Homo sapiens: one gene and its partners. The protein of the gene in region 2 interacts with the protein of the main gene of each other region in a pairwise test. Each region holds a gene or a part of one and is shown on either strand. Other genes may lie near its edges. The genes, in order: ZIC1, TEPSIN, C1QTNF4, PSMA6, FLACC1, CTAG1B and PCDHB3.

Region 1 (3,317 bases), on a different chromosome or scaffold from region 2:
AGGTGAGGTACTTGAGGGTATAATTCTCTGGCCAGCCCTTTAAAAGTTCTGAGAAAACTTCACAATAAAAGCATCTAAATGCCAGGCCTATCAGCAAAGAAGGTTAGTGCTACTTTCATTGTCAGGAAAAAAAAAAAATAAGAAAGAAAGAAAAAAAAAAGATAAGCAGATGGGGCAATTGAAAGGTTACATCTTTCTTTTGGAGGTGGTTTGCTTTTTAAAGGTTAACTTGAATGCTTGACTTTAAAAAATCAAAATCATCAGCTGCAAACGCTTAAAGCAGTTGGGGGTAGCTTTTGAAGAAGAAAACAAAGGATCTGAAATGTTTGAAATTACTTAGCCCCCATATAAATGGTGCTTGTATATTTATATGCTTGCTCTACAAATGCACACACACACATACCACAACTCATTTCTCTTCATTTCTCAAATATGATTGCTTGTACTCAGGCATTTTCTGTTGACACAACATAACTTTTTAATAACTTGTTAGCTGTTCTAATCATTTGATAGTATTCAGAATACAATGCAATTGCAAAATGAACCAGGACAGCATTCTACCTAAGTCAGAATCTAAAGCTACACACAGGAAACAGCTATTTGCAGCATCTTCAGCTCCTGCTAAAGAGAGTCTAACAATATATTTTGCTGTTCACATTTATGTATTTCAAAACCTAATAGCCCATGAAAAAAAGTATGAAGAATACATCTCAAGAAGCAGATATTAAAGGTACCAGCAAAATAATAGACTACATTTAACTTCGAAGGATTATTTTAGGCCACCTACATCATTAATGACTTTTTCTTTGTGATAGGTGTTGGAAAAGAGAATGCACAGGAGGGTTGGCTTAAATGTTGGCTTTTATTACGTTTACTTGCTGTGAGTAAGATTATTCACAAATGCAAACACACTACTCTTCAAATGTTTTCTTAAAAATTATTTGGCCTTCACAGTCTAAACAGATATTTGAAATATGGAGTCATTTTGAAGTAAACATTTACCCCTAAAATTTATCTTTAAAATATCCTACTTAAATCATATGTCATAGTGTGATATTTAATTGTTACACTGTGGTATTAAAGCAAAAGGGGCATCAGGTACACAACAAAAATTAGACAGTTATAATTCCCAATTTGAGGTAAACTACATCTAGGAATAGGAATGTTCGAAGAAAAGATGAACTCATCATTTACTATCTTCTTAAATGCACCAGCAAAATTACAAAAGTACCACTATTATCATGTTTATCATTATCACACTCATATCAGGTTATCAGACAAGCTGATCTCAATGAAAGTGGGAAGGATTATTAATTGTGGTGTTATCTTTTCTAGAGAGAAGAGATGTCTTTATTCCTCTTTCTATTTTTAACTAATGTCTGGACCTAATGTCTGGAGTCACTTCAAATGCAAATCTGTTAATCAGTTTCAAACTTCCAAACCAATTGGGGCTAGCTTTTGCTTCGCAAATTTTTGGAGCTAGCAGCAATTCCTGCTTAGGTATTCAACTTCCATAAATCTCACTAAACCTTGCAAGGTGGCGCTCTTTTCATGAAAAAAGCCAATATTATTGTTATAATCAGAATAACATTTTTTAAAAAGTTAAACACCACCCTCCCCAGTGTTTGATGTGGTACAGTAAGTGCAGCAAAGTCCTTCCTCAGCAAATAAGACTTTGTTGAAACAGTGACAAATATAAATAGCAAGAGATGAAAAGACAAGTCAACAAAGGATTCTTAAAGAAATTGAACATTTTTATCTTGTAATTGGCCAATGGTATAAACTGAAAAATTAATTTCACTTTAAAATAGATGTATCTTAAGGGGTTGTTATACTTTGTGGGGTTTTTCCTCTTGTTTTCTTTCTCAGAGTCAAATATGGCCTGTGGCTTCCTGAACACATAGAGTGCATTAAAGAATCAGGTCCATGGCCACCCTTGCCCAGTGAGGTCAGTTTCTGCCACCTGCTCTGCACCTCCACACACTAGCAACTACAGCCAAGGGCCTGATTTGTGATCTCCGGCTACGTTGTCTGCCTAATGGGGCGATCATGCAAGCTACAACCAGAGACAAAGAAGCCTGCGTTCCTACCAGCGCAGCTAACTTCATGGAAGCAGCATAGCTTGCAAATCTATCAAACTAAACTGCAAGAAAGACAATCTGATTTAGAGAAAAGGCATTCTGCTACAGTCATTAAGCACAAGTAATTTAGATTTTTTATATTGTCTCCTCATTTACAAATTTACTGTATCAATGCCAACCAATGGAACGAATTTCTTAAGTAAATGAGAAATAAATAAAAGAGATAGAAAGATAATCAAATTACTTAAAATAATCCTCTTCCCTAGATGTATTTTTGAGAGAACTAATAACAGTGGCAAAATCATAGGAATAATAACATATCATAGGAAGTAATTAATTTAAATTAGCATCATGTTTGAAGAATATAAGTGAAACGCTTTATGGACATTTACTTTTGTACAAAGAAGGAAGGCCTGGAAAAGCATGCATCGACATCCTGAAAATTAGTTATGGTCATAAATGGTTTAATTGAAGACAGCAATTTAAAATATGATATTGTAAATCTGCAACTCAGTTTCAGCCCGGGGAATTTAATCTAGGGGGCAGCGGAACCCTCGGCTGCAAGTTCATTTGCAATGTTGCAGAGCGAGCCCCTGAGCTTCTGACAATTCGTCTACATTAATATTGATGTCGCCTGTGCAATCTATTCCTGTTATTTTTATGGTTGTTATTCTACATCTGCAAAGGTCATTTAAATTATACTGCGGCCGAAAATTTGTTTCATAAATTTTGATATAAATACTAATTACACTCTCTCGGAGAGCCAGCAGGGTAGCATTCATTTATCACGTTTATACGACCTGCAGTGACAGAAAGGGAAGGCAAGGGAGACTGGAGAGCTTTTCTGGAGACCCTTTAAGACTGGCAGAAGAGGCAGCAGGTTGCTGGTGGGTGAAGAAGAAATTCCTACCACAATCACGGAGATTTAAGAATCTTTAATAAGGTACGAAAGGTTACCAAACAGTTCTGGAAACTAAAGTGTACATACGAGTTCTTCTAGCCATAAATATTGAAGAGCTGTAACATGGATAAACCGGCCCTTTACATGCGGATAAATATGGAAACTAGGAATTATATACATTATGTGGTTGTATCTTTTGCCAAAAGTAACGGACAGTTATAGTTTATATCTTTTTTAATATCACTTTACATAAACAAATGGAACAGTTTGACACGCAGATCCAGGCTCGTACTATACGAATTCTTGACAGGACATGAAACAACATTTTACTGCAC
Region 2 (4,389 bases):
CCACCACCTCTGCGGCCTTCTGGATGGTGGAGAGGAAGGCTTCGCCTGCCGAGCCTGTACCCGAGGAGAGGGAGATGGGACGGCCGCCCAGTGCGGCCCCCACCCGCGTTCTCTGGGAGCAGGGTGCCCGCATCGGCTCCCTGCTCAAGCTTGGAGAGGTCGGGGTACATGCTGCAGGTAGGGAGGCCTCCTGGTGGGCCCCAGGCCCTCTGGAAGCTCCCAGTGGACTCCGCTTTGGCATTCCCACTCCCAGTGGGCCTGGACACCAAAGCTCACTGCAGAGTTATGCCTCCGTCCCTCTGTCCTCTGGGGGTGAAGGTGTCCTAAGGGGCTTGGGCTTGGCCTTGGCTCAGGGAGGGTGTGTCCAGGGCTCGGGGAGGGGCCGGCCTTTCCTGTGTGAGTTCCCTGTAGAAGCTGCCCCGACACCAAAGTGTCGGCAGGAGCCCCAGGCTGTGCGCAGGACGGCGTGACACAGCCTAACGGTGAGCAGCTACACACCGCCCAGGGCCCGGCAGCAGGGCACAGCTGGGCTGGGGGCTGGGTCCCAGCCGCAGGCAGTGGTGCCACCTGTGGCTCTCCTGGCGCTGGTGAGCAGTTGTCCACTGGTACTGCCCCACCTCATAACAGCTCCACACGGGACTGCCTGAGTCACCTGCACCACAGCCAGGGGCACAGCCCTCGGCCCCTCTCAGAGTGGGACTCACCCCTGCCACGGGGCCCAGCCCTGACTTCTTGCTCGGCCTGGTTTCTCTCATCTGTCCATAAAGCAGCCCTGGCCACACCTGCCCCACCCCCACGTCAGCAGCCAGAGAGAGACAGTGGGGACAGCCCCAGGAAGGGTTGAGGCCATGTAGGGGAGGGGACGGGGGACAGCAGCTACTAGATGGGGCGGCATGGTCCGGCCCCCACCACCTCCTCATCCCCACACCCTGAGATGCCAGAGCCCATGCAGGCCCTCCCCACTCACCCGTGCGGCCGTGTTCCTTGCTGTAGCCGAAACCCTGGAGGGTGCTGTGCGGCCTGGCCTGGGAGCCCATGCCTGCAGAGGGTCCTCCGTTAGCAGCAAGCCGGCCCCCACCCTCGGCCCTGCCCACGGATGGCACAGACACCCAGGACACTCAAGGAGGCAGAAACCAGGTGCCAGAGCTGGACACGGTCCCCTCAGTCACCTACCTGTGGCAGGCGGGGTCCCCAGAGGCTGGGAGGGAGCCAGCGGCAACACGGTGTCCGAGAACAGGGTGCTCCCCAAGTCCTACAGGGGGAGGCGAAGGCCCTCAGTGTCCTCACACCAGGGCCTGCTGTACTCACCCTGCCACCCATATCAGCTCCGTTCTGTCCCCCGGACACTTCTCCTGAGCCACTCAGCTGGACACAGGCTCTGTGTCCACCAGCAAGGAGCAGAGGCAGGGGTCCCGGATGGGAGAACTGCAAACCCCCCAGCTGACATCCTGGCCCCAATCCCACCCCTCTACAGGAGGAGGGGCACCCCGCAGAGCGACACTGCTCCTGGGCTCACCTGCGCGGCCGCGCGAACCTTCTGGTACAAGCTGTTCCCGTGCAGAGGATCTGGGGGCCCTGCAAAAGCTGCAGAACAGAAAAGGCAAGTCGGGGGCAGGGCTGAGCCTGGCACCGCTGCTCCCTGTGGAGCACGGTGCCCTGGGCCCACTCCAGGGTGGCAAGTTCCTGCCACCAAGGCCCTTCTGTCACAGCCAATGGGATGCCCTCCTCCAGGACCCTGCAGAGGCCACACCTGAGCAGACCCTCAGCTCCCCCTCACCCATGCCCCACAGAGGCGAGACTCTCTCCACAGCAACCACCTCGTCTCCCCCAGGGTCGGCAACCCCTGGTGCCTGAGCGGGTGTGGCCTCCCCGAAGCCCACTCTCCCTGCCCCAGGTGCACCAGGGACCCCTCAGAGGCTTCCGGGGCCTGGAGGGAGAAACCAGCGTTCTTATCACAGCCTGAAAGCTCCACCTAGCCCCACCCAACCCCAGTCTCAGCCGCCTCGAGCTCCCCTGCTCTGAGAGTTCCTGTCATGATGAACTGGGGCTTCTTTCCTTAAATCTTCCGGCCCCAGGGCCCCCCAAGCCTACACCTGGGGCCGCGGCATCCTTTCAGGGCTCAGGCTGAGAGCTGTGCCTCTGAGAACCCCTCGAGAGCCTCTGTCACAGGCGAATCCACTCACGCCCCTCGGCCGTCTACCTCCACCCTGGCAGGCTGGTCCCGTGATTCGGAGACGATGCTCCTGGCTGTCCCTGGGCCCAGGGCTGGCGGCCACAAGCTGAGTCAATGGCTGGATGAACTGACACCCTGAGGCTGCCATCTTCCCTGCAGGAGCCCAGGGCACCCACCTGCCACCCCACGCTGCCCCTGCTCTGTGACAGAGCAGGAGCATCACCATCTTGGACAAGCCCCTCATTCTAAAGTTCACCTTAACCAAAAACTGCCTAAATCCATAGGGCATCAGCCTAATGGCTAAGGTCAGCACGACCATGAACCACAAATAACATCTCCAACCAGAAACATTCCAAACTCCTCCCCAACCAGAGACATGCTAGCCCCAAGATAACCCTTCTCCAGCCGGGAAGATGCCAGCTTCGAGAAAACCCACCTCCAGGCTGAAAAGATGCCTGCCCCAAGATAACCTTCCCTCCTTCCAACCCTGCCATAAACTTCTCCACACACATAAACATTCCGAGCTTCTGATAAGCCCTCTCATCCTAAAACCAACATTCAGTCTGTAAGATAAAGTGCTCCTGACCGCAATCGGCTGGGGGTGCCTCTCAGGTTTTAACTAAAGAAAATCTGTCTGTAACTGCCAGCTGCGTTTTCTTTCCTCTTTCTGACGCTCTGCGCGCGTGGGGCAGGCCATCCTCACTGCACACCCACCACCTGGAGCAGGGCGCCCCGTCTCTCACGTGTGGCATCTGGCACCCACTTTCCTCACAGGGCCTGTCCTGACACCTCCCACAGCCTGTGTGTCACCCAGGGCCAGTGTCCAGGCACGGCAGGCAACAGCCATCATCCATAGCTGCCTCTGCACAGGAGAGACTCTGGTGCCGACAAGAACCCAGGGTCTGAAGAAGAGCCTTTCCCATCCTCAGGTCCTGCTGTGCCCCATCCCCCTACCTGCTGCAGCCCCCACCCCAGGGCGTGTCCCCGAGACCACTGAGGCCACGACGTACATGCACCAACCACAGCCACGGGAGTGGCCTGGAGCCCGGGGCCCTCTGGCCCGCTGAATGGTGAGGATAAATGGCTGGTGCTGCCTTGGCCCCAAAGCTGTGAGGAGCTCTGTGAGGATGGCGAGAGCACCCCCGCACTGCCGTCCCCTCAGGGGCATCTACTGCCTAAGTCATGTGTCACAACTGTCTATGGCGGCCCAGGGCACTGGCCCCTGCGGAACACCTAGAGCTGCATGCCCACTTGCCATAAAGTGGGACAACACTGGTTTCGACACCGGTTTTGGGGTGAGCCCAGTGGATGGTACACCCTGAGGTCTCCACAAGCAAGCAGTGGCACGAGACAGACTCAGTCTCCCTCCCCAGAATTCCCCACTCAGGGGCTGGGGTGGGGTCCAGACATGGTGCGCCCAGTGACCACCTGGAGCCAGGCCTCCCTCCACCCCATGGAAGATCTCAGGCCAAGCCCCCACAAGTCCTCATTAGGCAGAGGCACATGGGACTGCCCCCAAGCCTGCGGGGACAGCTCCCCCAGACCCATCTTCTGCCTGGACAGACCGACTGGCCGGGGCCCCGCCTCTCCTGCCTCCCAGCTCCGCCCTCCCATGGCCTCACTCTGTCTTGGGCTCCGAGGAGCAGCCCCAGAAGGGGAACCCACAGCCTGGGAAGGATGTGTGAACAGGCACTGAGTCTGCTATGTGTGGGCACTGGGATGGAGGGGGAAGACCCGTGGGGCACACAGAGAAACAAACTGGCACCCGGGGCAGCAAGCGCAGGGACAGACGCAGCCAAAGGCCCAGGGACGCATAGGAGGCACGGAGGACCCAGCGGAGGGAGGGGGCAGGGCGCGTCAGGGGAGGCCGAGCCGGCCAGCTGGGGTGAGGGTGGGCAGCAGGTGGAGAGGCCAGAGATGGGCCAGGATCAGCAAGGCGGGGCTTTGATCGGGACCCGGCCCAGGTGAGGGCTCTGGCTGAAGTCTTCCTTCTCAAACCTGGAGGATCCGCCACCCTCCCCCATTCTCCAAAGCCCTGGCTCTTCCTGAGCGCGTGCGCGGCCCCTGTACCTGCAGCTTCCTGGATGAAGGCAGAGTTGCGTTTGAGGATGAGCAGGAAGAAGGAGGAGCCGTGGCTGCACAGATAGAGCAGGATCTTCAGCACCTGGGGAGTGGGGCGGTCAGCAGTGCTGGGCAGGCCGGACACGGGACACCCA
Region 3 (5,052 bases), on a different chromosome or scaffold from region 2:
TTTTTTTGAGACGGAGTCTGGCTGTGTCGCCAGGCTGGAGTGCAGTGGCTTGATCTCGGCTCACTGCAGCCTCCACCTCCCAGGTTCAAGCGATTCTCCCGCCTCAGCCTCCCAAGTAGCTGGGACTACAGGCTTGCACCCAGCACACCCAGCTAATTTTTGTATTTTTAGTAGAGACAGGGTTTCACCATGTTGGCCAGGATGGTCTTGATCTCTTGACCTTGTGATCCGCCTGCCTCGGCCTCCCAAAGTGCTGGGATTACAGGCGTGAGCCACCGCGCCCGGCCGAAACCCCTTTCTTAAGTGAAAGCTTGAACACAGACTAGCAGAAACACTCTGGTTAAAGAGGCCTACAGCCCTGTCTGCTGGGCTTGCCCCTACACCTCCCATTTGACACTCAGGGGCCCTGGTAACCCGGGGGATTCAGGGGAGTCTCTGAGTTCCCCTCAGCTCCAGTTGGCTGCATTTTCCTGTGGTTATTTTATGGTCCTTGGTCTGCCACTCACGCAGGCACTGGCTCTCTGTGTCAACGCTCTGCATGACCGTTACTGTTTAAGCCCCATCTGAGCAGGAAAGGAAATCGCTGCTCCCTGACCCCTTTCCTGGCCTCACCAGGGGCCCTTCCTGCACAGAGGAGGCGAGAACAGTTGGGCTTTGAGGTAGCTTCCTCCCCCTTGAAATCAGAGTAAAAGAGAAGGTGACTCCTTTCTCTTTGCTTGGAGGCTGGTTACTCAGAAGAAGGAGTGGCGAGCCAGGGGCTACTGGGGATGGACAGGGACAGCAACAATTCCAGCAGGGCTTTGGCAAGGCTGTGAAGTCAGCAGCTTTGTTCCTTGGGAGTGATGGATTGGAGAGGACAGATAGCCAGATCTGGGTTCAGGTCCTGGCTCTACCACTCACACTGTGAAACCTTGGGCAGGTTCCCTAACTTCTCTGGGCATGGCTTCCTCCATGTAAATGGGGAAGAGACCTCACACACAGGCTTGCTGTGGGGGTGTGCTGAGATAGGTGTGAACATGGTTTGTCAACGGCAGTGCTGAGGTGTGCAGATGCTTCTGTCGGTTGCCCTGACAAAAGTGATCTGGTCCAGTTCTTGACGTAAGGGTTTAGGGACTCAGTCACTCCTACCCCTGAGAGCTTGGTGAAGGCACTGCTTAACTCAAAGGAGTCACTCTCTGATGTAGGGATTCCATCCTGCTTCCTAGTAGGGCACGTGCTTTGGGGCTTGAATACCCAAAAGCCCTGATGTGGAAACAAAACAGGAAAGAAATGAGCTGGAGACAGCCTGGGATGTGGGCTGCTTTAGAAAATGCCCTGTATGTGTAGCTCTGTGTCTCTTAGAGACAGCAGGGACCTGCTGAGAAGGGTTGTCAGGTGTAGATGTGCAGAACGTCCCAGCTAGAATCTAGCTCACACTCCACATGTTAGAGCAGCACCTGGCGTAAAGTATGCCACCTTCTCATTCTCATACTAAAGACCCCAAGTTGCTAGCCAACTGAATGCTGTCTCCTTCCAGAGGAGGTGCTTTTTGTAATTCTCACAAAGGTGTCCTATGGATTAGTTAGGTGTCCCTTGGTTAGGACAGGGAGGAGGGAAGGGGCCATCCACAGTGGTGAAGATGGCACCTCACAAGTGTCCAGTGCATTCCCTTTTACAAAGTTCTTTTAGACACATGGTCTTGGCAAACCTACAAGACAGGTGGGCCGTCTCCCATTTTATAGATGAGAAAGCTGAGGCCCAACAAGGGAAAGCATTTTGGCCCAAGGTCACCCATGGAGCACTGAGGTTTTTTGACTCAAATTCCGTATGCCTTCCTGTCACTCTTCCCTCCTAGACACAGGTATGTCCAGCCAATTTGTTCTGTGCCTCAGTTTACCTTTTTGCAAAACTAGGAGAGGAGATCAGAGGAATGAGTCTTGGGATCCAGGGTGAGGAAGACAGAAAGCAAAACCAAACAAAAGCAAGCAAACACATTCTCTAGTGTTTTGTCTTCTGGGAACACGGAAAACAGCTCAGCTTTTCCATACCGCTGCTTTCCTAGTGGGTCCTGCCCCAGAAGCAGCTGCCCAGCAACCTCCTGACCAAGGCTGGTGCACCCCACCAGTGCCAAGGGTCTTCCTGTGCACCCAGTACCCAGCCTCCGTTTCACCCACACTGCCCAATTCCCAGATCCCTGGATCCTCGTCCTTCCCTGAACCCCCTTCCCTGAGCAGGTCAGAGGTGTGGGAGGGTGTGTCAGGTGGGTGTCATAGCTCCAGGGAAGGAAATGGCTGTTCCTGGCTCTGTCCAGGTGGGGTTCAAAATAGTCATCTTCAAAGAGAAAAACTGGGACACAGAGCTGGAGAGACCCAGAGCCCCGGAGCCAAGGCGGGAGGTGCAGCGATGTCAGGCTGAGGGGATCGCAGAGTTCCCCCTTGCCCTGCCACTCACCAGTTAACCCTTCCCTCAAGCCCTGCCAGAGCCCCCTCCCCAACCTACCTTGAAAGCCCCTCATCCTTCCAAGAAGTCCCACTTTCACAGAAGCCAATTAATCCTTATTTTTAAAAAACAAAAACCAATCCCTCTCCCCCGAGACCTTCCCTCCATCCATCCATCCCTTTGGAATGAAAGCCCTTGTGCCTGTTTCACGAAAAGGCTCCCAGGTCCTCCTTTCAAGGAAAAAGGACCCAATTTCCCCGCGCCTCCCCAGCCCTCGCTTCCAGTAAAGGGGGAACCTCGGCTCCCTGCCTCCCCTCAGCTGCCCTCACCTGGCTGGGGGCGGCGGTCGAGTCGGGTTCGGTCTGAGCCCGCGATCTGGCTCCGGGCTGCGGGCTGCGGGCTGCAGGCTGCAGGCTGCGGGTGCCGGGCTGCGCGCTGACCGCCCGCGCTGCGGCAGGGGCGGCGGGGGCTCCGGCTGCTTTTCCCGGCTCTGAGGCGGCAGCGGACAGGGTGCTGGGGCCAGGGGCCGGGCGTGGGGAGGCGTGAGGGAAAGGGAAGGTCAGCTAGAGAGGGAGCCGAGCGAGAGCGAAGAGGCGGGGGAGAGACGGGAGGGGGAGAGGAGGGGAGTAGGGGAGAGGGAGGGGCGAGCTGCGGGGCCTAGGGGCTCCGCACGGAGTCTGCGCCGAGCACTGGACCCTTCCTCATCTGTGACCTCCTTAGAGCTTCGTCCTCTGGGTCTAGAGAGCAGGCATCATTAATCTGAGCAGTTGGGGAAACTGAGGCCAGAGGCAGCAGCTAACGCGGGGTGGCCCAGAGCGCTCTACAGTCCAGCTTCCTTCCTAGTGTGGGGAGAGAGGGCTAGAGCTGGACTCAGAGGCTGGACTAGCCTTTGGGCTGCAAGGACAGTGGAAGGTGAGATTTTGGCTGGGACAGATGTCCAAGCTAAGTGGCCTTGGGGGAGAGGTCTGAAGGAAGAGAAGGATAAATGGGTCAATGTTGCCAGTAAAGGAAGAGCTGAAAATAACCTAGTTTTTCCTCCTCACCTCCAAATTGGAAAATGCCCACGGTCGGTTAGGAAAGAGGGAGAAGGGAGTCTGCAGGCATCAGAGGGGCAGCCTGCGTTCCCCGGGGTGAGGGGCAGTAAGGAGGAGAGTCCTTGGGGCAGAATGGAATTTTCTGCTGGGAAGGTTGCTCCTGCAAGAAGGGACAGGATTGAGAGGGCAATAGGTGGGGAAGAAAGGCCTCTGGAGAGGGAAACTGATGCCCTGCCTCGCTGGGGCCAGGCTAGCAAGAGTCCAGCAGGGCACCCGGGCTGGGAACAGCGGTCTTCCCATGGTAATACTCACCAGAGGCACTAGTGCTGGCCTCTACTCTGGGCTTCGAGCCCGTGGGATGGGGGCTCAGACTCCCTTTCTCTAGGCTGCTGTTCTCTCCCCTGACGGCTGTAGAGGTGACGACACTGCCTGGCACTCAGTAGATGCTGACTGAGTGGATGACTTTTGAAGAGCTCTACTTTCAGCAGCCAAGAGCTGGTGCCCTCTGCCTGGCCCTGGTTGACTCCAGAGCCATGGGCTCTAATTCTGCCTCTGCTGCAGGTCTGCTCTGTGGTCCCTGAGAGGCCTGGACCCCTGCAGAACCCCCGTCCTCTGGAGCTTTCCTTTTGGAGCTCTCAAAGTTTACCCCACCCCAGTTAATCTATTTGTCTCTAGGAAGATGTTGGTAGAGGTGATTGGCTCTGCTTCAAGGGTGTTAGGTGAATGATGGAATGAATTAACGAATATGTGCCAGAATAGAAAGGAATGAATGGAGGTGTTTTGGGCTGGATAATGAGGGTATTTGGTGACAGAGGGTGAAGCACCTGTCTAGCCCTTGTCAGATCACAACTGTCTCTTTCACCAACTTGAAAAGCTTGGGCCACAGGACTGTGGGGAGGACAAGAAGCAGGGTAAGGGTGGGATGAGCCACACAGGGATGTCGAAGGAGAGCTGGGGGATGCCAAAAGCCAACCTATGGCAATCTATGGCCCTTCTTAGGGCCATGGGCCCCTTCTGGATGAGAAGAGTGGAGCTGCTCTCCTGAGGGTGATTCCAATGGTGGGAGGGGAGGGGAGGGGAGAAGGTATATTATAGGATAATATAATCTCAGTTGAGGTTTGGTTCAGGCTGGGATTTGACACTCCCTGGATCCACAAGAGTTCTCACCAGAGAAGTGAGGGTTGAGGTAGAGATGGGTGGCTGGGGCAGATGACATCAGGATTTGCATCAGGGGACTGGGATAGGGAGGAAGCCACTGGGAAAGGGATATAGAGAAAGATGATGCCATGAGCTGGTGGGTGTAAGGCAGATGGGTGGGCTCCAGAATGGGAGTTAAGAAGAGGTGGCAGCAGGATCCAGAGAAAAGCCCTAGGCTGGTTATAGTCCCTGCTCCCTCCTCTCTTGTTTTGCAGCCACAATTTTATTTATTTTTGAGAGAGGGTCTTGCTGTGTCACCTGGGCTGGAGTGCAATGGTATGATCTTGGCTCACTGCAGCTTTGACCTTGCGGGCTCAAGTGATTCTCCCACCTCAGCCTCCCAGGTAGCTGGGACTACAGGTGCAGGTCACCATGCCTGGCTAATTTTTTTTAAAATTTTTTG
Region 4 (4,389 bases), on a different chromosome or scaffold from region 2:
AAGCATGTTGTTAGCATCTTCAGAATGGCTTTAATTCCAGACTTACACCCAAAATCTACTAAAATTTTTGTTTTTAATTTCTTGGCAGTAAATAGGACTGGCCTCGAACACCTAGACTCAAGCAGTCCTCCAGCTTCAGCCTCTCAAGTAGCTGGGACTACAGGTGTGTGCCACCATGCCCAGCTGGTTCCTATTTTTATTTATATTTTCCTATTATATGCGTTTTGTTGAAAGCCACCTCAAATACATTACGAAATAAGGAATTAAGTGAATAAAAGCAACTCAAATTTTCCTATGTCAGCTGTATGATATCAATTTCATTATTAAGTTGACAACTTGAATCCTGGGATGTAATTCAGGAATAGCTTTGTATAGAAATTATACAAAGATCCTCACTGTTCTATATAGCATAAAAAAAGTCAGCTCCTTTTGGTTGACTTACTTCCACTGTCTGTTCAAATGTCCAATCAAATTTCTTCTTCACTTTTTTTTCAAGGAAGCTGGTTGACTCAGTTTGTTTAACTCCCGCTGCAGTGGCTTTAAACCCACAGTAGTAACCTGCAGGATCACACTTATATACCTGAGGGCCTTGCTCTTCATCTATACCAATTAAAATCATACCTAAAAAGAGAAAAGACCCTAATTAAATGTTTTAGCTTTATACAATGACATCTCCTCTTTCTTGGTGGTGTCACATAGCTGCTGCTAATCATGACTTTGGCCATCAATTTTAGGATATGTATTTTCCTTTAAGAAAACTGATAAAATACAGGTTATCACCACAGGTAAATTAGGTAACAGGTAAATTCCCATTTCACAAAAGGATTTATCACAGATTAAAAAAAATAGTTTGAATAATTACAAATACAATTTAAAAATAGTGTTTCCAATCCTTGCTGTTATCCAAGCATGTTTATTTGAACCCTAATCCTTCAAGATGTTGCCTGGTCAAATAAACTTCAAAAACACTTTTTTTTTTTTTTTTTTTTTTTTTTGAGACAGACTCTCGCTCTGTCTCCCAGGCTGGAGTGCAGTGGCACGATCTCGGCTCACTGCAAGCTCCTCCTCCCGGGTTCACGCCATTCTCCTGCCTCAGCCTCCCGAGTAGCTGGGACTACAGGTGCCCACCACCACGCCCAGCTAATTTTTTGTGTTTTTAGTAGAGACCGGGTTTCGCCGTGTTAGCCAGGACTGGTCTTGATCTCCTGACCTTGTGATCCACCTGCCTCGTCCTCCCAAAGTGCTGGGATTACAGGCGTGAGCCACTGCATCTGGCCAACCTTTTTTTTTTTTTTTTTTTTTAGGAGACGAGGACTCGCTGTTGCCCAGGGTGGTCTTGAACTCCTGGGTTCAAGTGATCCTCCTGCCTCGGCCTCCCAAAGTGCTGGGATTATAAGTGTGCACCACTGTGCCTGGCCCAAAAACACTTTCATATACCTTTTCTGGAAACAGATAATAAATAATAGCATATTAAATGCTGTGAAATATTCTGTTGTAGATTGACCTATTTAACTTTAACTCAGTAGTTCTTCTGTTTGTTTGACCAAGAAATACTTTTTTTTTAAAATAGAAATACCTATTAAGGTTCCAGGGAACAGTGTATGGGACACACTTTGGGAATGCTGGCACAAACTGAAATACACTTACAGGCTACCTGCTCACCTTTACACTGCCCATCTTCATTACTGTTGGTATATACTCCTCTAGTAAGTCACACAAACCAAGCTCTAAATTCTATACATGTAACTTTGTTACTACAATTCTAATGTTACCATATTATAGGAATACAATTAAAATAAACACCATCATTAAATTTCTTTCTACTCAGTAGAACAGGTAACAAAGTACTTAATGGTTTGACTGCTTTCTTATATTTGATATATACAAAATATAAGGGCAACACAAAAAAGTACCCACTTACTGCTTGGGGAAACAACAAATACTTCTTTCCTTCAAGGTCTTGCAAGATGAATATGATTTAAGTAATTTTTAAGTGAGAAGTCAAGAGGGTCAGATGCTAAACAGAAATCATTACACTGACTGCTTTAATGCTCATAAATGAATGACACAATGTCAGAAACAAACATGCACTGAATTTTTCAGGCTAATTTATTACATCACATCTAAAAATCAGTAAATCTCATCCCTCTCCCAATACAATTTTACTTGTTTTCAAAAATAGAAATTTATTCTAAAAATGTGAATTACACACCTGTGTGTGACCCTAATTCTTTAGGGTGGTCAAAACAAACAGCTACATTATTAAGATGCCTGATGCAGGTATTTCTATGGAATTAGTAATCTCGAATTGCAGTAGAACCTCATTACAACATCCTAATAATGAGGACTTGCATCTTTCAAATCACATACACCAAATGGAAATACTTTGATAAAAAGTCTAACAGCATCTAAAGCTTAAAGATAATGCCCGACATACTGTTGTGAAACCTATCCTTTAGTTCTGATTTATTATAAAGATTTTCCCACTCTATGTATTTTCCAAACCACATGTTCAGAACTCAAGTGTTATTTAAATAATTCTGTATACATGTTCTGTAAAAAGTTTCAATTCATCAATTATTTGGGAGACCTCTTAGCATACTTACAACAACCAAGAGGCCTCATTTCAGCATTCTGTGTGTAGACCTGAGAAATATCGGCAATTCTTTTACACAGCATGTCCACAGGAATCTCATAGCCATACTTGTATTTCCAGTTAGCTGCCTCATAGCGTGCCCTCTGTACCTGGGATCTGCTGTCAGCTTATAGCATAAAAAACAAAGATTTACCTGGTTAGAAGGAAAGAACAAACCTGAAAGCCAGGCAATTTAGCCAGGCAATTTTCCCACCATATAGACATACATGAGTTAAAGAGAAAGGGTCCGCTACGGCTTTTTCTCCCCCAATGAATACTAAATAACTCATCAACAAGTATATGAAAAAAATTTAAAAACATGAAGCTCTCTACACAGTACTCCCCTTTTATACTGAGCCTTTCATCAGCAGTCAAAATAGTTTCTGCAAGTATCCAGTAACTCCCAAAAGAAAAAGCATTAAGGAGGCAGGGCATGGTGGCTCAACACTTTGGGAGGCCAAGAGAGGCGGATCACTTGAGGCCAGGAGTTTGAGACCAGCCTGGCCAACATGGCTAAATCCTGTCTCTACTAAAAACATAAAATTAGCTGCACGTGGTGGTGCATGCCTGTAGTCCCAGCTACCTGGGAGGTTGAGGCACGAGAATTGCTTGAACCCAGGAGGCGGAGCAGCCTGGGCGACAAAGTGAGACTCTGTCTCCAAAAAAAAAAAAAAAGGCCTTGAGAGAGAATAATCTTTCTTAATCTTTGTTTTTAGGCTTAAATTAGTTTTTCATTTTTTTTTTAGAGATGGGGTCTTGGACTGGCACCCAGTGAGCCATCATAGCTCACTGCAGCCTTGAATTCCTTGGCTCAAGTGATCCTCCTACCTCAGCCTCCTGAGTAGCTAGGACTACAGGTATGTGCCACCATACCAGCTAATTTTTTTTTCTTCTTCAAATGGAGTCTTGCTCCGTTGCCCAGGCTGCAGTACAGTCTCATGATCTTGGCTCACTGCAACCTCTACCTCCCGGGTTCAAGCGATTCTCCTGCCTCAGCCTCCTGAGTAGTTGGGATTACAGGCACCTGCCACCATAGCTGGTTAAGTTTTTTGGTATTTTTGTTTTTATTTTTTGAGACAGTCTCACTCTGTTGCCGAGGCTGGAGTGCAGTAGTACAATCTCAGCTCACTGCAACCTCTGCCTCCCGAGTTCAAGCAATTCTCCTGCCTCACCCTCCTGAATAGCTGGGATTACAGGTGTGCGTGCGCCACCATGCCCAGCTAATTTTTGTATTTTTGGTAGAGATGGAGTTTCACCACGCTGGCCAGGCTGATCTCGAATTCCTGACCTCAAGTGATCCGCCTGCCTCGGCCTCCCAAAGTGCTGGGATTACAGGTGTGAGCCACCGTGACCAGCCCCTAGCTAATTTCTAAATTTGTTATAGAGATGGAGTCTCACCATGTTGCCCAGGCTGGTTTTGAACTCTTGGTCTTAAACAATCCTCTCACCTTGGCCTCCCAAAGTGCTGGGATTACAACTGTGAGCCACTGTGCCCAACCTAAAATAATTTTCATAATAATTCTCACTCACTTCTAACCGATGCCATTATTACCAGGTTTGAGATATACTGAGTTAGGTCCCCTTAAACTACTAACTATAGCTGAAATAAGATAAAATCATCTATGAAAGGGCCCTCAGCCCAGTTTCTCCGACAGCAGCATAAGCATCTAATTCTATTATAGGTATAATTTCAAAAAAGCTCACAATACTCTTAAAATATTGATACTAGTCTTAGAAGACTGCAAATCCACTCA
Region 5 (4,389 bases), on a different chromosome or scaffold from region 2:
ACCATGCCAGAGTCAGTCATGCTCAGGGGCCTGAATGGCATGGAATGGTAAGCTTTGTGGATGATAGAAGAATTACTTCTCCTACAGGACCAACATCATTTCTGACCTAGAAGAGCAAATCTCAGAGCTGACAGCAATAATTGAACAAATGAACAGAGACCACCAGTCTGCCCAGAAATTGGTGAGTGACCTTACATTAGCTAACATCTTCATGGACAAAATAAAATTAATATTTTTGAATCACCTATGTGCCAGGCAAAATGCCAAGCACTTTACTCATATGAGCCATGTTGTCCAGGTGACAGGACCCTAAAGATTGGACTGTGTCACTCAGTAGTATTTCTCTGACATCTTTATCTGTAATTCCAAGAACTCAAGTTCTTCCACAAAGCTTAACTCATTTATTTCCAGGAGCTCTCCAAGTACCTCTGTGTGTGTGCAGTGACACTGTCCTCCTCACACTAGGGTGCACTTGTTGTTTTCTGTCTGGCCTTTGTGGTGCAATTAAGTTTCAGAGCTTGTGAGGCTCTCACTAACGACACCAGCGCACTTAATGTGCAGGGCTTACTCTCTGACTGTTAAAGCTGCCCACACATCAGAATCTGCAGATGTCATTTGACACTCTTTGTGATTCCTGAGGATTTCAGTGACACCTTTTTAGCTTTTACCATCTGTTTCATCTGGTGACTTCTTCCTCACCTCAAACAGGTGTGCCTGTTGGCCTGGCCTGGAGTGACAGCCAGTGCTGTGTTCAGAAATATCCTCCCCAGGGTTGTTGAACCCCACCCCATCTGTGAAGTTTTACTTCCCAGAAGGCAGCCTCTCACCCTCTGATATGCCCCAGATGTGTCTGAATCCTACAGTGACCCAGCTTATGACTCAGGCTGGGTCCTATCCTGAGACCACCCTCCTCCGCCTGCCAACTATTGATTCATTACCTTATTTATCTGAAAACACTGCCAGGTTTATGGTCTCCTTCTATAGAAAGGAAAATGAGACTCAGGGAAGTTAAACAATTTGCATACAATCTCTCAACTGAACAGTGGTAGATCATTGGACAAAATGAACATTTTAAGTCATAGGCACAGATCCTGCTGAAGACATATTTAGAGACTATTTCCATGAAGGGATCCTAGACTGTGTTACTGAAAATACTGCCACTTGTGAAGATGCTATTTGTTGTGTGGCCCTGTGGAAGGGAGTAGTGTTGGCTGACGCTGGGCTGTTCTCTGTCTGTCAGAGTGGCTCTGCTGACCACTTGTTGTGTGACACAGTCCCTGGCTTCTCCCCAGTAGTCAGAGAGGTACAAGGACAAGCCCTAAACCCTTGTCCTAGCTGACAGTGGTCACCGACTGATTTGAAGTATTGATTTATCCTGAGACACTGGCCAGAGGATCTGACATGTTAGAATGAAGTATCACCTGAAAGTGAGCAAATCCTGCCTGCTAGAATGGAACTATACTGTCAACAAGGATTAACACTAGATTTTAAGTTCCTCGAAGGCAAGATCTGAGTCTTAGTCCTCCTTGGCTCTTCCAAGCCAAGCCTTTTGTTCAATAAATGATTGCTCAATTGGATTACATATCCAAAAATCTGAAGGCCATGATGTAACAGAAATGACGATCTAGCACAGGAGACCAGACCTACCCAAAAAAAATAGTCAGTGAAAGAGATGCACCAACATTATGAACTGAATAAGTACAAAACAACATAGAGCAAGGCACAAATTGTTCTGTTCCCTTATTAATAATGTGCTCTCTGGCACTGCAGAGCACAGTGGAAGAGGGGTGGGAAGGGGGCTGTGCCCCATGAATTGGAAGGCGGCTGTGCCCCATAAATTGGAAGGCTTTTCAGAAGGTGCAGATCAGAATGGGACAGGGTCCTCAGTCCTGTGTTGTAGATGCTGATTTTGTTTCCAGCTCTCCAGTGAAATGGATCTCCGCTGTGCTGAGATGAAACAGAACTTTGAAAACAAGAACAGGTACACTTTCTGGCATGGACCCTTGTGTGTGTTGATGGCTCTAAGGGTCCCGCATCCTTTGCAGGATTTTAGTTCACTGGGACTTCAAATAGTTCTAAATGGAGTTGGGGGATGAAGGGTGGGGGAGATGAACAAGACACGTGTCTTTGAAGAGCAGAATGGCTTGATTCAAAGCCACTAAAATAAACCACAAAGAAAGTTATTACTGCTTTTACATTTTATCATCCAATCCTTTCATTTCAATTATAATCTCCCTTTTTGTTGGTTACTGAGAAGAGTCATTTTTGTTCTCTATGAGATTTCTGTGATAAATAACTGTTGTTCTCAGCCAAGGCTCCTCCTCCACCATCTCCTCGTTCTTCTCTTCCTCCTCCTCTTTTTCTTTGTCTCACCTCTACTCTCCCTGGCTGCTAGGTCAGGGCCTCAGCAAAATAGGAAGAAAGTATAAGAGAATCAGGAGCAAAGTCAAATCAAGAGAAAATTGAAAGGAGTCCAAATACAGAAAGACAGAGAATAGAACATGGTTACCATGGTCCGGTAGGAGGAAGAAAATGGGGAGATATTGATCAAATCATACAATGTTGCAAATATGTAGGGTGAACAAGTTTATATTGTTTACAAAGATATAATGTAAAAAATGAGAGCTATAGTTAATAATAATGTATGATATTAAGAACTGTTGCTAAATGAGTTTATAGCTGTTCTCACCACAGAGGGAAAATGGTTAACTAAGTGAAATGATGGATATGTTAATTTGTTCCACTCTAGTAAACTTTTTACTATATGTATATAGTAATCTCCACTATTATAACCATTTGTGTATATATATATATACATACATATAAACTCTACCTATATATATATGCTTGTGTAGTGTGAGTGTATATATATAGTAAAAATTATGTGTAATATATATAGTATAATGGTTACTATAGTAGAGATGCATATATATATGATTTATATATATATATATATATGAATCTTATGACATCATGTTGTATACCTCAAATATACACAATAAAATTTATTTTTAAAGGAGTTTTCTTATGTGTATGGGTGAAGATAATCCTACATCCCCTTTCAGGCTACTTGCTGCACACCAGAGCAGCCTTAGAAATCCTGGTGGAGAGATAGCACTCTTAGTTGAGTCATAGCCATTTACACATTTATTTATCTATAGACTTTATCTGTTAGAGCAGTTTTAGGTTTACAGCAAAAATGAGGAGAAAGTACAGAGAGTTCCTGTGCACCTGCTCCTAATCAAATTCAATCAAATTAAACTCAAAGATGAGTACACCAAGACACATAATAATCAAACTATCAAAAATCAAAGACAAAGCAAAAATTCTGAGAGCATCAGAAGGTAAGAAACACGTCACATACAAAGGAGTGCCAATACAATTGTAATTTCTTAACAGAAACCCTGCAGGCCAGGAGTCAGTGTGATGATGTATTAAAAGTGCTGAAGGAAAAAACTGCCTACCAAGAATACCTTAGCAAAGCTGTCTTCCCCAGTTGAGGGAGAAATAGAAACTTTCCCAAACAAAAATTAAGGGAGTTCATTACCACTATGCCTGCCTTACAGAAATTGCAAAAGGAAGTTTTAAAAACGGAAACAGAAAGCTGCTAATAACATGAAACATATGAATGCACAACACTCAATGGTATAAGCAAAATAGAGCCATACTCAGAATACTTTAGGACTGTGATGATGGGATGTAAGACAATTTTATCCCAATATGAGAGTAAAAACACAAAACTATTAATAACAACTATAGCTAAAATAAATTTTCAATGATAAATCATATTATAAAATGATATCAATTCTGACATCAAAAACAAAATGTTAGGGAGGGAGTAAAACTGTTGAGTTATTGCTTGCAACTAAACTTGTTGTCAGCTTGAAATAGCTTATTACAAGAACAAGATATTCTAACTAAGTGTCATGGTAACCACAAAGATAAAAATCTTTAGCAGTAGCACAACACAAAAATAGAAATGATTCAAAGCATACACTACAAAAAACATCAAACCACAAAAGAAGAGACCAAGAGAGGAAGAAAGAATCTACAAAACAACAAAACAAAAATTAACAAAATGGCAGTAGTAAGTTCTTACCTATTAATAATTACCTTGAATGTAAATGGATTAAATTCTCTGATTAAAAAAAATAGAATGCGTGAATGGATTTTTTAAAAACAAGAACCAACTATACGCTGCCTACAAGAGACTCATGTCACCTGTAAGGCACATGAGCACTCCTCCCAGGGTCTGAGATTAAGCCCACTCAACCTGCCGCTACCACCATTGCTGGCACCTATCTGCATGCACCACCTATGGGCCTGAGGACAAGACCACCCAACTTCTCATAGCCATTGCCAATACCAGTGAGTACCACTTGGGTGCTA
Region 6 (4,309 bases), on a different chromosome or scaffold from region 2:
CCCTCTACGGTGCTATCAAACACTAGAACTTAATCCTTCTATGCAACTATATGTTTGTCCCCATTAACCTCCCCACCCTCCCCACCTTTCCCAGCGTCTGGTAACCATCATTCTGCTCTACCTCCAAAAGATCAACGTTTTTAGTTTCCACATGAGTGCCAATATGCTTTTCCCAGGTGCAGAGGCTGCTGATTCCTGGATTTGGAAGGTGGGGGAGAGTGGTTTGGATTTCAGTACCTCCCCCTTCCTCAGGGCTAGGCCCTGTCTGGTCACCTCCTGTTGCTACAGGTGTGCCTGGCACAGACATTCAGCTCCCGGGGCCGTGCCGCCCTCACCCCTGCATGCCTCTAGAGGTACCTGTCCCGTGGATTTGACCCCCTTCCAGACACACAAATAGATCACCACTGAGCAGACACAGGGTCACCTCCCAGCTCCCTACCAGGCAAGAGCGACCAGGGCAGGGACTGATACTGCCGAACCCAGGAGCCAGGCCCGACCCAGCCTCAGGTCCAGCAGGTCCCGCCTGTCCACCTGGGCCAGGCCTAGAGCCCGGGAGCCCCTGGCTGGTGGGAGGCCACCCGCAACCCACCCCACACGCAGCTCCAGCTCCCCCACCAGGCGGGGCGACTAGGACAGGGACAGAACCCGTTGAACCCAGGAGTGAGATCCGGCCCCGGGTCCCGCTGGGCCCTCCCGTCCACCTTGGCTGGACCTGGCGCCTGGGAGACCTTGGCTGGCGCGAGGCCACGCCCACCAGACATGCAGTTCCAGCTACCCCACCAGCTGGGCGACCAGGACAGGGACGGAGGCTGCTGAGCCCAGTTAGAGGCCTGCCCCCCGGGGTCTGTCCTGGGCGCTCCCCCAAGGACGGACAGGGCAGGCAGGGTCCGGGACGATGGCCGCACAGTCCCGGCCCCGTGTTCCCAGGCCCGTCTTGCTCCTCGATGTGAGGGAGACCCGGGGGATGGGACAGGCTGGGCCCCGCAGTGCCTGACTCCCTGCAGGGCTCCCGGGACAGGGGTCCGGCGGACAGCCGGCTGCTCAGGGGTGAGGGGTCCAAGCTGGCATTGCGGCCACCTTCCGGCCCGGGCTCTCTTGGGGAGGGGCGGGGTTGGTGAGAACCGGTCACGTGCTCCGGGGCTCACTCGGGGTCTCCCAGGGCCGGAAGTAGGGCCCCTGTGCGCAGGCGCCCTGAGGATCCCGGGCTGCCCATCTCACGCCAGGGGGCGGAACTTCCTGCAGCCTCTCTGCCTCCGCATCCTCGTGGGCCCTGACCTTCTCTCTGAGAGCCGGGCAGAGGCTCCGGAGCCATGCAGGCCGAAGGCCGGGGCACAGGGGGTTCGACGGGCGATGCTGATGGCCCAGGAGGCCCTGGCATTCCTGATGGCCCAGGGGGCAATGCTGGCGGCCCAGGAGAGGCGGGTGCCACGGGCGGCAGAGGTCCCCGGGGCGCAGGGGCAGCAAGGGCCTCGGGGCCGGGAGGAGGCGCCCCGCGGGGTCCGCATGGCGGCGCGGCTTCAGGGCTGAATGGATGCTGCAGATGCGGGGCCAGGGGGCCGGAGAGCCGCCTGCTTGAGTTGTATTCTGTTCTGTTCTGTTCTGTTCTGTTCTGACAGTTCTGGTGGCGAGGTGGGGGCCGGGAGATGGGGAGGGCAGGGCCAGGTGGGGGAGGAGGCGGGGGAGATGCGAGTAAGTGGTTGGGTGGGGGTGGGGGTGGGGGTTGGGAGGTGGGGATATGAGAGGCCAGCTGCGAGGAGGGGAGGAGGTAAGGGCTGGGAGGTAGAGGGGGTGGGGGTGGGGGAGAGGGGCTGGGTGATTGGGTGAGGGGCACCGGGTCATGCGGGGAGGGGAGCAGGGGCCAGGAGATAGGGGGACCCAGGTGTAGGAGGGGATCAGGAGGTGGGGGGAAGGGGGCAAGATGGGAGCGGGTGGCGGGAGGTGGTTGGGATGGAGGGTCGAGTGATGAGGAGGGGGCCGGGTGATGCCACAGGGGGCAGGGTGGGGAGGGGTCTTGTAAGGGCATGGAGGAGTCAGCTTGGGGTGCAGCAAAGGAAAGTGGGGAACCAAGACAGCTGGGTGGGGTGTGCTACTGGGCCAGTGCCTGGGGAGACAGCCTGGGGGGGATGGGCTGGGCAATCCGGGGTAGGGGGGAGGGGTGGGGGAGTGGGGGAGGGGGAAGCTGGCCTGGGGTAAGCAGCAGGCCGGAGCCACAGGCCAAGTCCTAGGAGAGGATGCCTTAACTGGGCCCCCACCAGCTACCTCGCCATGCCTTTCGCGACACCCATGGAAGCAGAGCTGGCCCGCAGGAGCCTGGCCCAGGATGCCCCACCGCTTCCCGTGCCAGGGGTGCTTCTGAAGGAGTTCACTGTGTCCGGCAACATACTGACTATGTCAGTTCAGGACCAGGACAGGGATGGGGCCTGGGTGGGTGGCGGTCACAGCGTGGCAGGGTGGGGGCTGGGATCCGCCTACACCCCACGGTCAGGCTGCTAGAAACCTGGGAACACCCCAGCACAGGGTCTCAGAACAGAGACCTGGTACACCAGGCCCGCCGCCACCCGAGGGAGCCCAGGGAGATGGGTGCAGAGGTGTCGCCTTTAACGTGATGTTCTCTGCCCCTCACATTTAGCCGACTGACTGCTGCAGACCACCGCCAACTGCAGCTCTCCATCAGCTCCTGTCTCCAGCAGCTTTCCCTGTTGATGTGGATCACGCAGTGCTTTCTGCCCGTGTTTTTGGCTCAGCCTCCCTCAGGGCAGAGGCGCTAAGCCCAGCCTGGCGCCCCTTCCTAGGTCATGCCTCCTCCCCTAGGGAATGGTCCCAGCACGAGTGGCCAGTTCATTGTGGGGGCCTGATTGTTTGTCGCTGGAGGAGGACGGCTTACATGTTTGTTTCTGTAGAAAATAAAACTGAGCTACGATTCCGTGTCTGAGTCTCTTTTCGGCGAGCGAAGGCACCTTCGGACTTGCATGCCCTTGTCCTCGGGTTGCAGGGGAGGCTCTGGGATTCACAGATTGAAGTAGCACAAGGTAACGGGAGGCAATTTGGGAAATGGGGGAAAATGAAAAGCCACTGGGTCCCGCCATTCAGCATTAACTACTGTGGACATTTTAGAATATTTTCCTCAATATACTTGCATTTATATGTTAAATATATGACAGTAGCATATATAATGTTTTTCCAGGTCAGCATTAAATTTTTTCCCAAATTGTTTTCATTGAACATATGAGCTTTTTTACTTGGGAAAAATTCTTTGAAAACGTACTTGAATAGATGCATAGAACCAGCATTATCATATCACTGTTAAGCATGTGATATGGGTTGGGCATGGTGGCCCACACCTGTATTTCCAGCGCTGTGGGAGGCTTGAAGCGGGAGGATGGCTTGAGACCTGCAGTTGGAGGCCACCCTGGGCAATGTAGCGAGATTCTGTCTGTAGAAAAATCATTAAAAGGCCGGGTGCGGTGGCTCATGCCTGTAATCCCAGCACTTTGGGAGGCCGAGGCGGGCGGATCACCTGAGGTCAGGAGTTGGAGACCAGCCTGGCCAACATAGTGAAACTCCATCTCTACTAAAAATACACACACAAAAAAAACAACAACAAAAAAACATTAGCCAGGCGTGGTGGTGTGCGCCTGTGATCCCAGCTACTTGGGAGGCTGAGGCAGGAGAATCACGTGAACCTGGAAGGTGGAGGTTGCAGTGAGCCGAGATGGTGCCACTGCACCCCAGCCTGGGCAACAGAACAAGACTCTGTCTCAAAAAAAAAAAAAAAAAAGAAAGAAAAGAAAAGAAAAAATTAGCAGGGTGTGGTGGTGTGTGCCTGTGATCCCAGCTACTTGGGAGGTTGAGGTAGGAGAATCACTTGAACCCAGGAGGTGGAGGGTGCAGGGAGCCGAGATCATGCCACTGCACTCCAGCCAGGTTGACAGAAAAAGACTCTGTCAAAAAAAAAATTTTTCTTTAAATTAGGTGGGTGTGGTGGCAGGCACCTGTAGTCCCAGTTACTCAGGAGGCTGAGGTGTGAGGTGGAAGGATGTGTTGAGTCCAGGAGCTGGATGCTGCAGTGAGCTATGAATGCACCCCTGAGCTCCAGCCTGGGTGACAGAGTGAGACCCTGCCTCTAAAATAATGATAATAGTAATTCAAATAATCTAAAATCTTTGTGAACATGTAATATAACCAAAACACAGGTTCATTCCCTCATCGCTTGGAGATCCAATTAACAAGAGCGTGGTCTGCTATAAAGAAACGGACTTTCTGCCATGCTTGATTTAGGGGAAGACGTACAGGCTCCTGCCTTTAAGGG
Region 7 (4,830 bases), on a different chromosome or scaffold from region 2:
ACAAAGCTGCTTTGGGCATATTATAGAACACATTATATGAATATATTCAACAAGGGAAATTATAAAATTGGTGGTTTGGAACTCTCTCTACATTGCTTTATAATGTAAAATTTGAATGGAGTTATTTTAATAAGCTATTTGAAATCACTATTAAAAGACAGTGAATTTCTTTTTGCTCCCCATTAGAAAAAAAAAAGGCGGAATTAAGACTGCGTTGGCAAGCCAGGATGAAAGGAGAATATGCAAGGATTAACTACAGAAAAAGTAGAATCAATATATAAACAAAATGTTCTATCGACTAAGGATTCTCGATTGAAATACAAAACATTCAGAGCCACACAACTACTTTCCAGTACTGTTAATGAAACCTAAGCCATCCCTGGATTTGATATTTTGCTCTATTCTTGCTACTTGCCTTGAACCAGACCAAAAAAGACCTCTCCAATGGACAAAGCAGTAAAAAAGGACTTTCCACAGATTAACTAAGACGAGGCTCAGTAGATCCTTATTAACACTTAACTGAATTCAAAGCTCTTCCTGAAACTGGGATTTGCCTCGCTAACCCTCTCTGCACCCTGAGCAACGAAGTTGGGGATAATTGGCTTCAGGAACTTGAACTCATTTGTCCCGGAGCCTCCAGTCAGACACACCTCGTACTGGTAGCTCTGGGACAGGGTCCCGGTGCCGCTCACGTCCACCATCTGCCCTGGAAAGGGGCCCTCGGGCACCGAGCAGCGACCCACCGAGGCCGCCCTGCTCCTCCTGCACAGCCGCACCGCCACGAACAGGAGCACCGAAAAGAGGAAGAGCGAAGACACCGAGGCCAATGCCACCACCAGGTAGACGGTGAGCAAGTCGGCCTGGGCCTGGGCCGGTGCCGCCTCCGGGAGAGGCAGGTAGGGCTGGGAGAAGCCGTCCACCAGGAGCACATGCAGCGTGGCGGTGGCCGAGCGCGGAGGCTCGCCATTGTCCTTGACCAGCACCACCAGCCTGTGCTTGGCCGCGTCGCGCTCGCTCAGCAGCCTGGCGGTGCGCACTTCGCCATTGTGCGCCCACACGCCGAACAGCCCGGGCTCCGTGGCCTTGAGCAGCTGGTACGACAGCCAGGCGTTCTGGCCCGAGTCGCCGTCCACCGCCACCACCTTGGTCACCAGGTAGCCCGGCTCAGCCGCCCGGGGCACCAGCTCGGTGCAGGGCGCGGAGCCGTTCTGCAGCGGGTACAGCACGAAGGGCGAGTTGTCGTTGGCGTCCAGCACCAGCACGCGCACCAGCGCCTCGCTGCTCAAAGCCGGGGAGCCACGGTCTGTGGCGCCCACGCGGAACTCGAACGCCTGCAGGGCCTCGTAGTCCAGCGACCTGAGGGCAAACAGGTGGCCGTTGTCCGCGTTGATGGAGACCAGGGAAGAGAGGGGCAGGTGCGGGTCCTGGGGCGGCAGCAGCGAGTAGGTTACCTGGGCGTTGGTGCCTGAGTCTCTGTCTGTGGCGCTGACACTGCCGATGTGCAGGGCGGGGCTGTTGTTCTCGCGGACGAACAGGGTGTAGGAGATTTGGGTGAAGGCGGGGGCGTTGTCATTGACGTCGGAGACCAGCACGGTTATGTTGTACTTGGTTTTCAGCCTGGGTGTCCCCAGGTCAGTGATAGTGATGGTAATGTTGTACTCGGATCTGGTCTCTCTGTCCAGCGCGCCTTCTGACACTAGGGTGTAAAAATTCTCTACAGATGGTTTCAGGAAGAAGGGGAGATTGTTCTCAATGGAACACATCACTCTTCCGTTGTCTCCAGAGTCTAGATCAGAAACACTGAAAACAGCCAGTACAGTCTCTCCCGAGTTCTCAGGAATAGGGCTGTTTACTGAAGACAAGGTCAGTTCCGGTGGGTTGTCGTTGACATCAACCACCTGGACTATGACTGTAGACTTTCCGGATAGGCCTCCGCCATCCTTGGCCTCGATGTCGACTTCATAACTATTAATCGCTTCAAAATTCAAATATTTGACCAGTTGCATATCACCAGTAATTGGATTTAGCTGAAAAGTTTTGCGAATTTCTTCAGAAGCATGAAAAAATGCATATGATATTGTCCCAAAACTTCCTGTATCTAAGTCAGAAGCCGAGACAGTGACAATGACAGAGTTAACGGGGGTATTCTCTAGAACTGCAACCTCATAGAGCGGCTGTGCAAATTCTGGTGCATTGTCGTTTATATCTAAGACCTGGATGTTTATCTGGGCTGTCCCAGACCGAGGGGGAGAGCCGCCGTCCAGCGCGGTGAGCGTTAAGCTGAGTTCCGGCTGCTCCTCCGGATCGAGCGCTTTATCCAGTACTAGTTCCGGGTACTTCCTTCCGTCCCTACGACTGCGAGTGAGTACGTGGAAGTGGGAATTCGGAGTGATAGTGTAGTTTTGGAGGCTGTTTCTTCCCACATCCAAGTCCTCAGCATTTCCCAAAGGAATTACTGTTCCTGGCAGAGTGCTTTCTAGGATTTTCAGATGCATTTCATTTTCAAAGAATACCGGAGAATGGTCATTTACATCTATGATACGGAGCTCGTTTGTAACGAATTGCAAAGGGTTTTGCAGTAATATCTGAAAATGTAGTATGCATGGTTCTGTGGGGCCGCATAGCTCCTCCCGGTCCAATTTCTCATTCAGGAGCAAATCACCTGTCTGATGACTGAGCTGAAAATGCTGTTTGTTCCCTTTGGACACAACTTGGGCCCCCCTCGCGGCCAGTTCCTCTACCCTTAGTCCCAGATCCTTTGCTAGGTTGGCTATTAAAAAGCCCTTCTCTTTTTCCTCAGCCACAGAATAGCGTCTTGACTCGGACCCAGCCAGAGACCCTCCCAGAAAAACAAAGAGAAGCAAGACTTGCCTTTGTCTAAGAAATCGCTCTCCTCCCGCCTCCATTGCACTTTCCGTCACGCTCTTCCAGGGAATGTCGCCAAGCTGAACCTCAGACAGAGCTGGGAAACAGTCTTTTGCCCCACAACCTTTGTAGACGGCCTAGTGAATAAGCCTTTCCAGAGGCTCAGACTTGCTGGCTCAAAAATCTGCCTGGGCTCTCAACCGCTGGTTTACCACACTGGATCCGTGCGTCACCGAGCATGCACAATGCCTGTGGTTTAATTCGCCTTCTTAGTCAACAGCGCCACCATGCGTTCGCTTGCAGTTACAAAATCTTGGAGAAGGTGTTTTTATTTTGCTTTATCGATTATTCTTATCAACCCTAGTTGACGCTACTGGAGGAGTTTCTCATGTTATATGAATTAAATAAATGCAATCTAGGGAAATAAAATGCACTTTTATCTACGAGCAGCGATTCTTCCTGGTAGAGTCCTCATTTACACGATTTAACGGAAGTGTACACATACTAGTTTACCCCTCCCCTTTTGTAATAATTACACACAAACTTCAAAAGATTTTTGCTCTAGATGATAGCATGCTTCACTATCCTATTTATGTTTTTCTTTTTTTCCTAAACTTTGTGAAATGAGCCCGAATTGCATATACCAGAAAAACACAAGGAAAAGACACCTCCTGCAAGGTGGTAAAAAAGAAAATATATCATGTCAGAGGTGGATCCAGAGGACTACAAATACCTAATTTCTTCCAGATTATCATGCTCAAGGAACACTTAAAGTGCTTTCTCTTCTTATTTCAGAGCAAATTTACAATTATTCATTTCATCTGTATTAGTTTATTTCCACAGATAATTGTTGAGTTTGTAGAAGTTAGGCAAGTGGTGGTAACAAGACAATGTCTGTATATCTTACAACAATTTTCCATCTAGTGGGTGTACAGTCTTTAAACAGATGTTTAAACAGTGTGAAAAGTGCTACATAGAAAAGGTACTGAGTGCACTGAAAGTATGCAATACGGGGACCTAACTTAATGGAGAGTGATTAAGAAAGTTTCCCCCAAGGTGCACCATTTAATCTGAAACATGAAATAGGAGAAGTGTGCCAGGCTAAGACTGTAGAATGTGTGAAGGCCCTGAGAGAGCAAAGCATAGCTATTAATAGATAATGAATGAAGTACAGTGAATACAAAACTTAATGTCTCAAGAGTAAGTGGAAAGGAAGGCTGAAAAGGTAAACCAAGGCCAAATAATGGGCGCTTGGATTTTATTATTCTAAGAACAAAAGGAAGCCATTGCAAGGTTGTTGGTACAGAAATAAAACAGTGCAAATATGTGTTCAATGTAGCCGCTTTTGTACTTCTACACAATTATCAAGAATGTTTGCTCTTAATACTAGTGATACTAAAAATAACAGCAATTTCACTTTTATGTCTTTATATTGAGTATAACTGCAAGCTATTCAAATACCTGCTATCATTTGGGTAGAAGAAAAGAAACTTTGTGACTCATCCAAAATCCTACAGGTAATGAGTTGGTTGATCAGAGACTTTTGATACCAACACAGCGCTCTACACCATTGCTAATCTCAAAACAAGACCTTCAAAGTTAATATTAAAATTTTAATAGGATAGCTCATTCAAATGTATGTAAAAATGATATAAAAATATAAAGATAGACTGAGTAACATTAAGAATTAAGATTTGTTTTAATGTATGGATCAGAAAGTAAACTGCAAGAAATGAAAACAGTTGGGTGAGTCATTTAGGGAACTATGGAAGGAAATTTAAGTAATAAAATTAAAAGCCATCTGTATTCCTTAAGCCAGTGGACAGGAAAGGAGGCTCAATTTAAGCATTAAGAGAAAAAGTAAAAATATGTTGAAGGAAAGCGACAACAGAATGATAACTGCATGTTCAAACAATGGTAACCAATTCAATTAATAACAAAATTATAATTCATTGTACACCAAAG

Evidence for each region.
Region 1: the proteins of TEPSIN (region 2) and ZIC1 interact in binary tests that used the Homo sapiens proteins (3 or more experiments, as listed by UniProt).
Region 3: the proteins of TEPSIN (region 2) and C1QTNF4 interact in binary tests that used the Homo sapiens proteins (3 or more experiments, as listed by UniProt).
Region 4: the proteins of TEPSIN (region 2) and PSMA6 interact in binary tests that used the Homo sapiens proteins (3 or more experiments, as listed by UniProt).
Region 5: the proteins of TEPSIN (region 2) and FLACC1 interact in binary tests that used the Homo sapiens proteins (3 or more experiments, as listed by UniProt).
Region 6: the proteins of TEPSIN (region 2) and CTAG1B interact in binary tests that used the Homo sapiens proteins (3 or more experiments, as listed by UniProt).
Region 7: the proteins of TEPSIN (region 2) and PCDHB3 interact in binary tests that used the Homo sapiens proteins (3 or more experiments, as listed by UniProt).

Annotation. Positions count from the first base shown.
Region 1 is NC_000003.12:147,414,246-147,417,562, reverse strand, and holds the end of ZIC1 (zinc finger protein ZIC 1), read right to left. Parts: 3' UTR 844-3,317; downstream 1-843. UniProt on the Homo sapiens protein: Acts as a transcriptional activator. Involved in neurogenesis. Plays important roles in the early stage of organogenesis of the CNS, as well as during dorsal spinal cord development and maturation of the cerebellum.
Region 2 is NC_000017.11:81,232,465-81,236,853, forward strand, and holds part of TEPSIN (AP-4 complex accessory subunit tepsin), read right to left. Parts: intron 4,338-4,389; coding exon 4,244-4,337; intron 2,820-4,243; exon of another isoform or gene 1,585-2,819; coding exon 1,517-1,584; exon of another isoform or gene 1,475-1,516; intron 1,253-1,474; coding exon 1,174-1,252; intron 1,138-1,173; exon of another isoform or gene 1,040-1,137; coding exon 968-1,039; intron 55-967; coding exon 1-54. UniProt on the Homo sapiens protein: Associates with the adapter-like complex 4 (AP-4) and may therefore play a role in vesicular trafficking of proteins at the trans-Golgi network.
Region 3 is NC_000011.10:47,591,401-47,596,452, forward strand, and holds the start of C1QTNF4 (complement C1q tumor necrosis factor-related protein 4 precursor), read right to left. Parts: upstream 3,012-5,052; 5' UTR 2,748-3,011; intron 1-2,747. UniProt on the Homo sapiens protein: May be involved in the regulation of the inflammatory network. Its role as pro- or anti-inflammatory seems to be context dependent. Seems to have some role in regulating food intake and energy balance when administered in the brain.
Region 4 is NC_000014.9:35,309,113-35,313,501, reverse strand, and holds part of PSMA6 (proteasome subunit alpha type-6), read right to left. Parts: intron 2,763-4,389; coding exon 2,607-2,762; intron 622-2,606; coding exon 443-621; intron 1-442. UniProt on the Homo sapiens protein: Component of the 20S core proteasome complex involved in the proteolytic degradation of most intracellular proteins. This complex plays numerous essential roles within the cell by associating with different regulatory particles.
Region 5 is NC_000002.12:201,339,962-201,344,350, reverse strand, and holds part of FLACC1 (flagellum-associated coiled-coil domain-containing protein 1), read left to right. Parts: intron 1-87; coding exon 88-181; intron 182-1,919; coding exon 1,920-1,981; intron 1,982-4,389.
Region 6 is NC_000023.11:154,616,220-154,620,528, reverse strand, and holds CTAG1B (cancer/testis antigen 1), read left to right. Parts: upstream 1-1,246; 5' UTR 1,247-1,310; coding exon 1,311-1,579; intron 1,580-2,255; coding exon 2,256-2,390; intron 2,391-2,629; coding exon 2,630-2,768; 3' UTR 2,769-2,920; downstream 2,921-4,309.
Region 7 is NC_000005.10:141,098,726-141,103,555, reverse strand, and holds the start of PCDHB3 (protocadherin beta-3 precursor), read right to left. Parts: upstream 3,084-4,830; 5' UTR 2,907-3,083; coding exon 516-2,906; 3' UTR 1-515. UniProt on the Homo sapiens protein: Potential calcium-dependent cell-adhesion protein. May be involved in the establishment and maintenance of specific neuronal connections in the brain.